Regions from separate parts of the Homo sapiens genome. Here region 2 is linked to region 1. A link means that fine-mapping ties the variant in region 1 to the expression of a gene that starts in the linked region. Tissue or cell type: whole blood. Region 1 holds a variant in brackets; the other region holds the start of a gene. All regions are shown on one strand. Distances are from middle to middle.

Region 1 (5,383 bases):
GGTATTTAGGGAAAAAACCATAATTAGGTGAACTTCATTATTCAAAAACAAATTGAGTATTTTTAAATTTGTGAGATAAAACTTATAAGCCAAGAAGCAAGCAAGGTGTAAGAAGCTTCTTGAATCTTCCCATCCATTCAAAAATATTTACTGAGTGCAACTTCTGTGATAAATGCAAGTTCTAGGAGCTGAGGATATGGATAAACAGTGAAAAAACATACAAAAATCCTCATGCACATGAAACTTACTTGGGCTAGGCATGGAGGCTCATGCCTGTAATCCCAGCACTTTGGGAGGCCAAGGTGGGTGGATCACCTGAGGTCAGGAGTTCGAGACCAGCCTGACCACTGTGGTGAAAACTTGTATCTACTAAAGATACAAAAATTAGCCGGGTATGGTGGTGGGTGCCTGTTGTCCCAGCTACTCGGGAGGCTAAGGCAGGAGAATCGTTTAGAACCCGGGAGATGGAGGTTCCAGTGAGTCGAGATGACGCCACTGCACTCCAGCCTGGGCCACAGGGCAAGACTACATCATCTTAAAAAAAAAAAAAAAAAGAAAAAGAAAAAGAAAGAAACTTACTTGGAAAGAATCAAAATTTTTAAAACAAAATATACGTTAGATATCACCAAATGGGATGGAAAAAACAAAACAGAAAAGTGGGTAGGAACTACACATGTAGTGGTGGGAAGAAGGACCCTAATTTTAAATAGGGTAGTCTGCAAAGGTCCACTGAAATGATATTTGAGTAAAGATATGACAGTCGTAAGCATGGGGATATCTGGGAGAAGATAGGGTCAGGCAGGGAGTACAGCAAAAGCCAAGGTCCTAAGGCAGAGTGTACCCAAGATGTTCAAGAACAGTAAGAGGCTGGAGTGTGCCTTGGATAAGGTAAACAGGGAGCAAAGGATTAGAGATAAGGTCAATAAGGAGAATTACAGATGGCTGCAGATTTGCATCAAAGACTGGGGACTCCGGCTTTTCCCTTGGGTCTGGCTAGCTATGACTGCTGTGATCATTGGAGCGTGGGGACAATGACACCAATCCAGCTCCACACCTCCTCTTTAAGAGAACTGGCATCTTCTGCTGTGGTCTCCTGGAGCCCTCAGATACCATGTAAGAAAGTACAACTCCCCTGAAGGAGAGACAACGTGGGGAAGCCCTAAGACCACATGGAGAGAGATGGGGAAACCCAACTGAGCCCAGCCTTCCAGCCATCCCTGCCAAGGTATCAGGTGTGTAAGTAAAGCCAGCTCTGACCCTCCAGACCTGCCCAGCTATCAGCTGAACAGCTCAAGTTACTCAAATCAATACCATGTTGGAGGGTAGAAGAGTCAAAAAGCTCTAACCCAGTTCCTGACTCACAAAATCATGTTCTGTAAGTTCTTGCTTTAAGCTACTAGGTTTCACGATAATCTATTCCACAGCAATAGATAACAGAATCGGTCAAGCAGGTAGGGGAGGATGGACAGATGGCCTAAGGTCTATCACAATCAGAAGGCAACAAATACTATAAACAAGAAAGGTTATTATTTTGGAAACAAAAACTATGCAGGGGGATGTTACCAACTGGGAAGATGCTAGACATGGTCTCTCCTGCAGGGGAGTTGGAACTTCTTACATGATAGCTCAGGGCTCTAGGAGTTCACCCAGAGGCTGTCAGTCCTCTTAAAGACAAGGCCCGGAGCTTACATGGTGTCATTGCCCCCATACTCCAGTGGTCACAGCAGTCACAGCTAGCCAAGATTCACACAGTAGAAAATGACTTGTTAGACACAGGAATAGAAGCTAAGTTTTTCTGTCAAAATGCTTGCTGTGGTCTGAATATTTGTGCCTCCTTTCCCCCACCCAAATTCCTGTTGAATTCATATACCAATGTGATGGTATTAGGACATGGGTGGTCTTTAGGGGGTGATTAGATCATAAGGGCAGAATCCTCATGAATGGGATTAGCACCCTTATGATAGAGACTCCAAAGAGCTGTCTTGCCCTCTTCCACCCGTGAGAGGCAAGAACGCCCTGTGAACCAGAACTGGAGCCCTCACCAGACACAATCTGCTAGCATACGGGTCTTAGATCTCCCAGCCTTCAGAGTTGCAAGAAATAAATTTGTTGTTTATAAGCTGCCCAGTTTATGGTATTTTGTTATAGCAGTCTGAATGGACTGAGACAATGTCTTACTCTAAGTTCTCAGGCAGAGATTGCTATTGAATAATAATTCATTCAAGGGTCAGCTTTATGTGTCAACTTGGCAGGGCGCTAAGTTCTCAGCTATCCAAACACTAGTCTGGGTGTTATTGTGAGGTTATTTTGTGGATGTGACTGAAGTTCATGATCTTTAAGGAATAGCGATTATCCTTGATAATCTTAGTAGGCCTGATTTAGTCAGTTGGAAGCTCTTAAGAGCAGAACTGGGGTTTCCTAGAAGTTCCAACCTACAGACTGCAGTGTCAGCTTCTACCACAGAGTTCTATCCTGCCCTTCCTGATGACCTGCCATACTAATTCAGGCTTGTCTAGACAGCCCTCAAATTGGGTAAGCAAATTCCTTGCAATAAATTACTTTATATCTCCTACTGGTCTGTTTCTCTTATTCAACCCTGACTGATATGGTTTCTAATGAACAATTGGGGAAAGAGAGCAAGAGGAAACACCTGATAATGTAAAAAAGCTTAAGAGCCGATCCATACTTCAATTTTCATTAAAGCCCCTTGGAAGGGATGACCTGGCACAGAGCCCAGAGCATCCTTCCTTACACTTCTCCCCTCTCAGCTCCAGGCTGGTTCAGGAGATAATCCCAAATCTTCCCAAACTCCAAAGTTTGAATAAGGCTGAGAAAAGGCCAGAGGCCCTAGAGAAAATCTGTGGTTAACAAAAGGCAGAGTGAGCTGTAAAAATATGAAACTGGGGAGGCAAGGGGAATACACAATTCAAGCAGTATGACAGGGTCTGTAACCAGAAACCTGTGAAGACTGGACATTTGGAGAAAAGCCAAAGACCAAGGGCCAGTCAGCAAATAAGCCTCTGAAGAACAAAGCTATTTACCCCAAAAGAAACTCAATGAGATCTTGGAGTGATTATATTTAGCTATGTTTTCCACATCAGTAGAAACACAGGGCTAGAGAGTTCAGTTCAGTAAATACAGACGTTTGATTTTACACACCT[CAGATA/A]AGAATTATCCTTCTCTTTAGGGGAGGAGGTTTCTGCCCTTTCCTGTTCTGCAGTTATCACCTGTGCTGTGACATTTCTCTCACTCTCTGAATCCAGGACTTAAAGAATGCTGGAGAGGGGAGCGCATACCAGGAAACCAGTGATAAGGAGCCCGACTTGGGACCTGAACCTTCAGGGAGATTTCAGTTATTGTCTGTGGTAGGCAGATGGACAGTCCACAAAGATGTCCATGTCCAGGACAAGAAAGACAGGTCGATTCTACCAAATAACATAGATAGTACAACTGAAAATATAACTAAACTGCATGAATGATGATACATGCAGGAGGAGCAATGTGGAGATAAGATAATGTAAGTAAGCCAAAATCCTGATCTTCCAGGGGAAACAATTAGTAGACATTACCTAAAAGTTTAAATAACACCTTTCATAAGCATATTATTCAGTTATGAAGGCAGCTGGCAGAGGAAGACAAAAAGGCTGTTAGAGTGGTTTCTTCCAGGGAATAAGAATAAGGGTAGGGTAGCAAAGGGAAGGAATAGGAAACTCTTGCTTTTCACAATACAGTTCCACACTCTTGTTTTCTTAAAACACCCTTGCCTGTTATGCTATTAAAATTTTAAAAATCAATGAGTAAACCCAGTATTCTGGCAAGGACTAATTTCAAAAACAATGCTTTTATTTAATTGGGGAAAAAAGTTCATTTTATTACAAACACTAAGTGAGCCTGATAATATCCACCTGAAGTCCTGCGTGTTTAGTAAGACAGCTCTCTCCAAATAAAAATGATTGCCATTTTTTTAAAAAGCCAAATACAAAAGTATTCATTTTTTATTGCTGCATAGCAAATTACCACAAATTTATTAGCTTAAAACACAAATTGATTACCTCATGGTTCTGTAGGTCGGAAGTACAGGCACAGCATGGCGATTCTCTGCTCAGAGTCTTACAGGCGGAAATCAAGATGTCAGCCAGACCTCACTTCTATCTGGTGGCTCTGGGGAAGAATCTCTTTTTCAAGCTCCTTCACATTGTTTGCTGAATTAAGTGATGGTGGTTGTACGACTTAGGTCCCTGCTTCCTTGCTGGCAAAGGCCTGCTTCCAAATGATAGGATCCTCACATCTTTACCATGTGGTCTCTTACATCTTCAAAGTCAGCAAGGGAGAATCTCTCTCCTGCCGGAGACCTCTCACTCTTAGAATCTCTTTCGCCAGCTAGAGCCCAGTCCCTTTTAAAGGCTCAGCTGATTAGCTTAGGACTACCAAGCTAGTCTCCCTATTTTAAGGTAAACTGCTTTGAGACCTTAATTACCTCAGCAAAAACTCTCCACACCTGTTACCTAGGTACCTAGATTAGCATTTGATTGCATAATCGGGAGGAGGTGTGTGTATACCAGAGAAGTGGGACTCTTGGGGTCCATTTCAGAATTGTTTCCTATAGCAAGCAAATCAAGATTATAATCTCTCCAATAGGAATTAATAGGTTTACATACTGCAGGTCAAAAATCTTTAAGTATATAAATGCAATGCTGAATTTTTTTCCAGCATTACTGAGAAATAATTGACAAACACTGCAAATATTTAGGGTGTGTGCTGTTTTGATATATGATATATACTGTAAAATAATTGCCACAGCAAAGCTAATTAACATATCCATCATCTCACAGGTGTGTGTGTGTGTGTGTGTGTGTGTGTGTGTGTGTGCATGAACATTTAAGAACTACTCTCTTACCGTATATCAAGGAGCCTGTCTTCCAGAAATAAGGTTTCTTGATAAGATGGTCTACTGTTAAGGTACAGTAAGTAAAACTTAGGAACAACTTAAAGGAAAGCAATATGACATAAAAATTCTGAAAGCCAACTCCACATATTTAAAAAACTCAGTTCAATCATATCTAGGTAATTGATAAATCTCATTATGGTAGCTTAATGATTTTTAAAATATTTTAAATCAAAGTTTACATGGTGAAAGAATGCTCTATAGAGGACTAAGGAAGCACTAATCAATTTAATGATGTGGGAAAATTAATTCAAAATTAATAATGAAAATGACTAATTTTCATATATTTTAGCCATTTCCCCAAATTAGTTAGGAAATGTGCTTTAGAGAAAATCATCAAGGAAGAAATAAGACTAGATTTAAGGTTACAGCCAGGGAAAGTTATTAATTAGTAGCAAGAGTATATCCCATTAGCTTTGCCAATCAAAATTATTGTTA
Region 2 (5,383 bases), 24 kb after region 1:
CTTGTTTTCCAGACTGCTCAATTCTCATTAAACATGCAAGCAGTAGTGCTGTGTTCGGCTGTAAGTGACGCTCTGCATATGCCTGGCTAGCTCCTCCACACGCATTTGTGGAGGAGCTAGCCAGGCATATGCGGAGACTTGCCATGTAACCTGCAGCAAGTTACTCACCTCCACCTCCCTATGTTCTTCTGCACTTCCTCAAAGTGAAAGTTCATTTATTAGGTAAGGAACAAGAATTGAATCCAAGTTTGCATTCACTGTGCCAGGCATTTAAAGCTGCCACTCACATGTTGTGGAATGAACTGTATGGTCTCTTACAGCCATAAAACATCCAAGTCTCTAGGATTATGCTGTTAGGTTCCAAAGAATATAGTGTACAGTAGTCATGAGAAATATCATGACTTTCTGAGATTATACACACATATGCATATATATGTATGTGTGTATATATATCTCTCTCTTCTCATATAGACATAAATCGGTATCAGAAGGTATATACGATACACAGTGTGTGCATATTTATGTATCTATCCCCTTCCTTTATCTACCTCTAAGCTAGGAGAGGCATCAGGCTGAAGAAGTCAAAGTATAACTACTAAAATGAGATAATATAGAAGAGAAAATATTTTTAAAGAATTAAAAATATAAAGCTATATAAATGCAAAAATATAACTAATGCTTAAGAATTATTAGACTAGTTGGCGGAAAAATTTCTTCTGAAGAGGGAGTAGAGTAATGCTATTGTTATTTTAAACCTCACCAAAAAAAAGTGAACTATACATAATCTCCTATACCAAGCAAAACACTGCAAAAGCTACAGGTGACCAGAATTATATAACGCCTTTTGAGAATGTACAAGCGTTTTCAGGTACATACATTTCATTAATTTCTAGAATGTTTTTAAGAGTTGCCAGACCAAGGCCCTGAAATTTTCAAATATAAAAATCCTATCTTGGAAGGCGGGGACTCTTACAGAGCTGGGGCCTAGTTTAGAATAGCATTATCTTAGATAAGAGCCCAGCCTCCCTCCAAGCCGTAACAGGAAATGCTTCATAAAGAAGTCTGCATCCTTAGTCCCAGACCTCCGCAGTTAGTATTTGGATTCTAGCCTTTATAAATGGACTTCTCAAAGGTGCATCCAACATCTGAGTATTCTGGCAGCAGTAACGTAAAAGGACTGACAAGGAAGGCTGCAGAGAGGTGTCAGACACGAAAACGCTTGAAGACATAAAAATGAGGAGTCTTAAGCACCTAAGAACTGCAATTCCCTATCTGAGCAGCAGGTAAGATTCTGGGGTATCAGATCACTGTATCCAGTTCCAGGTTCTCCACTGGCAGAGAGTGCAGTCTCTGACTTTGTCCTCTGAATGCAGGAACTTTATCGAAGCTAAAGTACCTGCTTTGGACACTTCTGGCACAGGTGTTGGGGTGACAGGAAACATCATCAATTCAGCTGCCAACTACAGCGGAAAAAAACTAGGGAATAATCCTCAGAAAATGGCACTGTTAATGGGTACAAAAAACACAGATAATAGGAATAAGCTCTAGTGTTCAGTAGCACAATAGCGTGACTATAGTTAACAATAATTTATTGTATATTTCAAAATAACTACAAAAATGAATTTGGAACAAAGAAATAAATGATAAATGTTTCAGGTAATGGATATTCCAATTACCCTGATTTGATCACTACACTGTATGCTTGAATCAAAATATCACGTCTCCTATAAATATGTACAACTATTATGTGCCCATAAAAACTAAAAACAAAAAAGAAAGAAAATGACACTTAAATATTAAAATACCTTTTATCCCCGAATCCCACATTTCAGTTTGGTCTTCTGAAAAAATGACTTATCAGTTTCTCAGCTAAAGAAATGATATCGACAGTGTACTACCTAAATTATACCTTATATTCTTTCCTTTCCAAAATATAAATTCGCCAGTGAACAATCTGATCCTAAAGAGGGCGGAAGATTAACCCGCCTAGCATGAGAGCACAGCTTAAAATAAATGCTGTTAAGTAGTCCTCAGGTAGAACAACTTTCCCAGCCAGCAGGCCCAGGAACTCAAGGTCTAGCTTAAGTTGGGTATTTGTATTCAAGAAGGAATTACAATCATGGAGTCAAATGACTTTTTCAATGCAGACGACAAAACGTAATCAAGTCAGTAGACACTTTACTAAGAGGAGGCTAAGCAAATGGTTATTTGCTTAAGGTTAGGGAACTCTTAAGCCCAAGGACCTGAGAGCCTGGGAAGGCGGGGGGGAATGGGTTTGACTCCCAAAGTTTGCGTTTCCGCAAGTGGTTAACACAACTCTAGGAACAAACCCTAAGACCAATACTCCCCACAATCTCATTTCCCCCCATTCTGCATCACCCATCACCCCAAAATAAAAACAGCTACTACAGCACAGCCCTTTGGTTACGCAGGAGGCTGGGACCTGATCCTGGCATAAAAAGCGGATGCGGGCGACCGAGGACCACACACGTGGGGGCGTTCGCGGGCGCTGAAACCAGCTACGAGGCCCACGCCCCCGCCGGGGACAGCTGGTGACCATCACCTTTGGACAGGGGCATTCCCCAGCCGGCCCCGGAACTTGCGAAAGACGCGCAGCCCTTCGGACTCAGCCACTCGCGCAGGGCCCGGGTCCCGGGCGGCTCGGGGCACCTGAGGAGCGCGGCGAAGGCGGGGACAGGGACGGGGACGGGGACGACTCGGGAACAGGGAAGCGCGCGGCCTCCCGCAGGACCCACCTGGATCTGCAACGGCACGAGGCGCACCTTGCAGCGCTCGCTCACCGCGAAGCCCTTGGGCAAGTCCACGTACTGGCCCCACTCCTCGGCGAACAGCTGCACCACGAATTTGCGGTGCATGTCGATCTGGTCGCCGTACAGGCTGAGGAACTTCTGGATGAGCAGCTCGTAGCCCGCCCCGTGTGGCACCGACGAGGGTCGCGCGAAGACTGAGAAACAGAAGAGCACCGGGACTGTGCCCGACGGCGCCCCCGCGCCCCCGGCGCCGCTGTTGGGGAGCGCAAGGACCGCCGGCTCCGCAGCCGCCATGTTCCCCCGAGCGTCTGCGAGCTCCGAGGCCGCCCAGTCGCACCCAGCCGGCTGCCGCGGCCCCGCCTCCCGGCGATGCCAGCCCGCCCGCCAGCTCGCGGAGGCGAAGGGGCGTGTCCTGACGACCGCTGCTCGCGCGCTCTCTTACCCGCCCCGGAGGGCGGGCCGCGGCGTAAGGGTGGGTGGTGGGGCCGGGGTGCGCGCGTGAGCCAGGGAGCGCCTGCGCTCGCCGGCCGGGTCCGCCCCCTCCAGCTTCCCGGGCCGCTGCGTTCCCGCAGTTCCCCGCTCGCGCCCTTTCTGCCGCGGTTCTGACTGCCGGCAGAACGCCTAGTGGTCTCGCAGACCCAAGACCCGCCTGGGCTGCCCGTTGTTCTTGCCCCGGTGCTGCAGCTCACACAAGGGTTTGTACCACCCTTCCCCTAACGCTGGCCCTCTTCGCGGCTTCGCTCGCCTTCGAATGAGCAGTGTTCTTGGCAGTCTAGGGTTGTGGTTGGGTACACAGAGCCGCCAGGACGAGTTACCTGTTGGCTCTGTGCAGAAGCATGCAGTCCTCCTCGAGATGGCAGTGGTATCTTACAACCAAAGGGACAGTCCGATAGATACCCTAAGAAGAGCAGCAGAATTTAATCCTTAGAGGGCCAGTCAAGGTTCAAGTTTTGTCTTTTTTCGGTCCCACAGAACACAATATCTCTAGGAATGGATTTGATATCTGGCCTCCCTTCATCTCAACCTATTTCTGGGAGGACTTGGATTTGGGAATATAAATACTATTAAAAGCAAAAATCTGAACTTTATATTGAAACTAAGGATATCTGTTTTTAAGTAAGTAAAAGGGATCACTTTCAAATAAAACAATCCTCTGCCTTCTGCACACTGTAAGGCGCTATAATTAACTGGAATTAGAAAGCATGCATTATGAACAGAATTTCCTTGGAATTGAGTCCTGCGAAGATAGGCATGGGCCTAAACATAAAATTAGATTTTAGGTATTAAAGCTGTCCTCTTCTAAGAAAATAACCTTTAAAGCAGGGTTTCCCAACTGACACTGTTGACTTCTGGAATGGACATTTCTCTTTCTTGGGGATGGGGCATCTTGTGCATTTGCAGGATATTTAGCAGCATCACCGGCTTCTACTCCCGCTAGATGCCTAGTGACCGCTCCTCCCTCTAGTTATGGCAATCAAAAATGTTTCCAGACATTGCCAAATATTCCCCAGAGGGCAAATATACCCCCTACTTGAGAACCACACTGCTTTAAAGTTATGAAAAGACCATCCTTTGGTGTTTCTTGCTCAATTGTACCGAAGCTACTAGAAATAGCCATTTTTTTCTGGTTCTCATCACACTTTGAGAGATCCCATTTAAAAGTGTTGTCTGAACCCGTCAGACCCAAAATGATATTTTTTTCCGGATACCACTCCATTGCAAGGTCTTCTATATGCAGATATGCTGATTTGTGCTAATAAGTGTACCCCCTCAAGACCTGATTACCAAAAGGTACCTACCTATTTTGGGTGGACTAATAAAAGTGTTCCTTCCACCCTGTAAAGCCTCCTAACACAGAGTAGGTTGGAGATTAGAGATTGGCCTAGACTTCAGACATCCTCAGCGAGGACCTTGGCATCTACACAGTCTTCTGCCGTGGCCCTCATGGCCGTGAGTCAACATACTTCATTTCCCTTTCATGTTTTTAAATTAGGTTTCTGACCCTTCAGTAAGGAAATCAACTTCCATATATATTGTGCTGTCTGAGATTGGTCCTTGACAACCTAGTTTAATGGTGCAATCATTGTGGTAATAGCATGTTAAATAACATTAATAAAATAGATATTTGATGGGCACATTTACCATTTATTGAATATCAACTGTGTATCAACCTCTGCATCACTGGGCTGCAAAAGGGAGGTGAATGCACATTTCAGTGATAAATTATTATCCTCAGAAATACAATTATTAAGATAATTTTTATAAATGTTACCAGAAAAAGTGAGTAAGACCCCATAAATGAATATTCAAATGACAAGTAGAAAATAACTGTTCTAATTGACAAGATCATATTATGGACCAAATGCCCAAAATTTTCTCATATAGGACTCTCAGTAGCTTTATTAGTTAATGTTAAATGCTTACTTTTAGAATCTAAATTCCAAGAAAATCAAGAAGGTATATTACACAGTATTGATTAATACATTAATATGCTACAGAAACAAACCCCAAAATCTCAATAGACTGATAAAACAAAGGCTTATTTCTCACCTTTCCCAGTTAACAGCAACATTTGACAAACCAATTACTCCCTTTATTTTGAACCATATTCA

Evidence for each region.
Region 2: it holds the start of ISOC1, and the variant in region 1 is fine-mapped to the expression of ISOC1 in whole blood (TOPMed, PIP 0.93).

What each region holds. Positions count from the first base shown.
Region 1 is chr5:129,116,134-129,121,516 of GRCh38, reverse strand. No RefSeq gene overlaps it. Among named protein-coding and RNA genes, the nearest start is that of MIR4633, 21 kb to the right of the region's middle. The variant CAGATA/A (reference allele first, on the strand shown) is at 3,162.
Region 2 is chr5:129,092,449-129,097,831 of GRCh38, reverse strand. ISOC1 (isochorismatase domain containing 1) reads right to left here and starts at 3,083. Exons shown (of 5, transcript NM_016048.2): 1 at 2,757-3,083. The coding sequence starts at 3,065. MIR4633 (microRNA 4633) reads right to left here and starts at 144; the gene lies at 66-144. It overlaps LOC124901060 (a long non-coding RNA gene), which reads left to right and starts at 1,053. Exons shown (of 2, transcript XR_007058926.1): 1 at 1,053-1,283; 2 at 2,433-4,906. RefSeq lists a silencer at 2,686-3,465.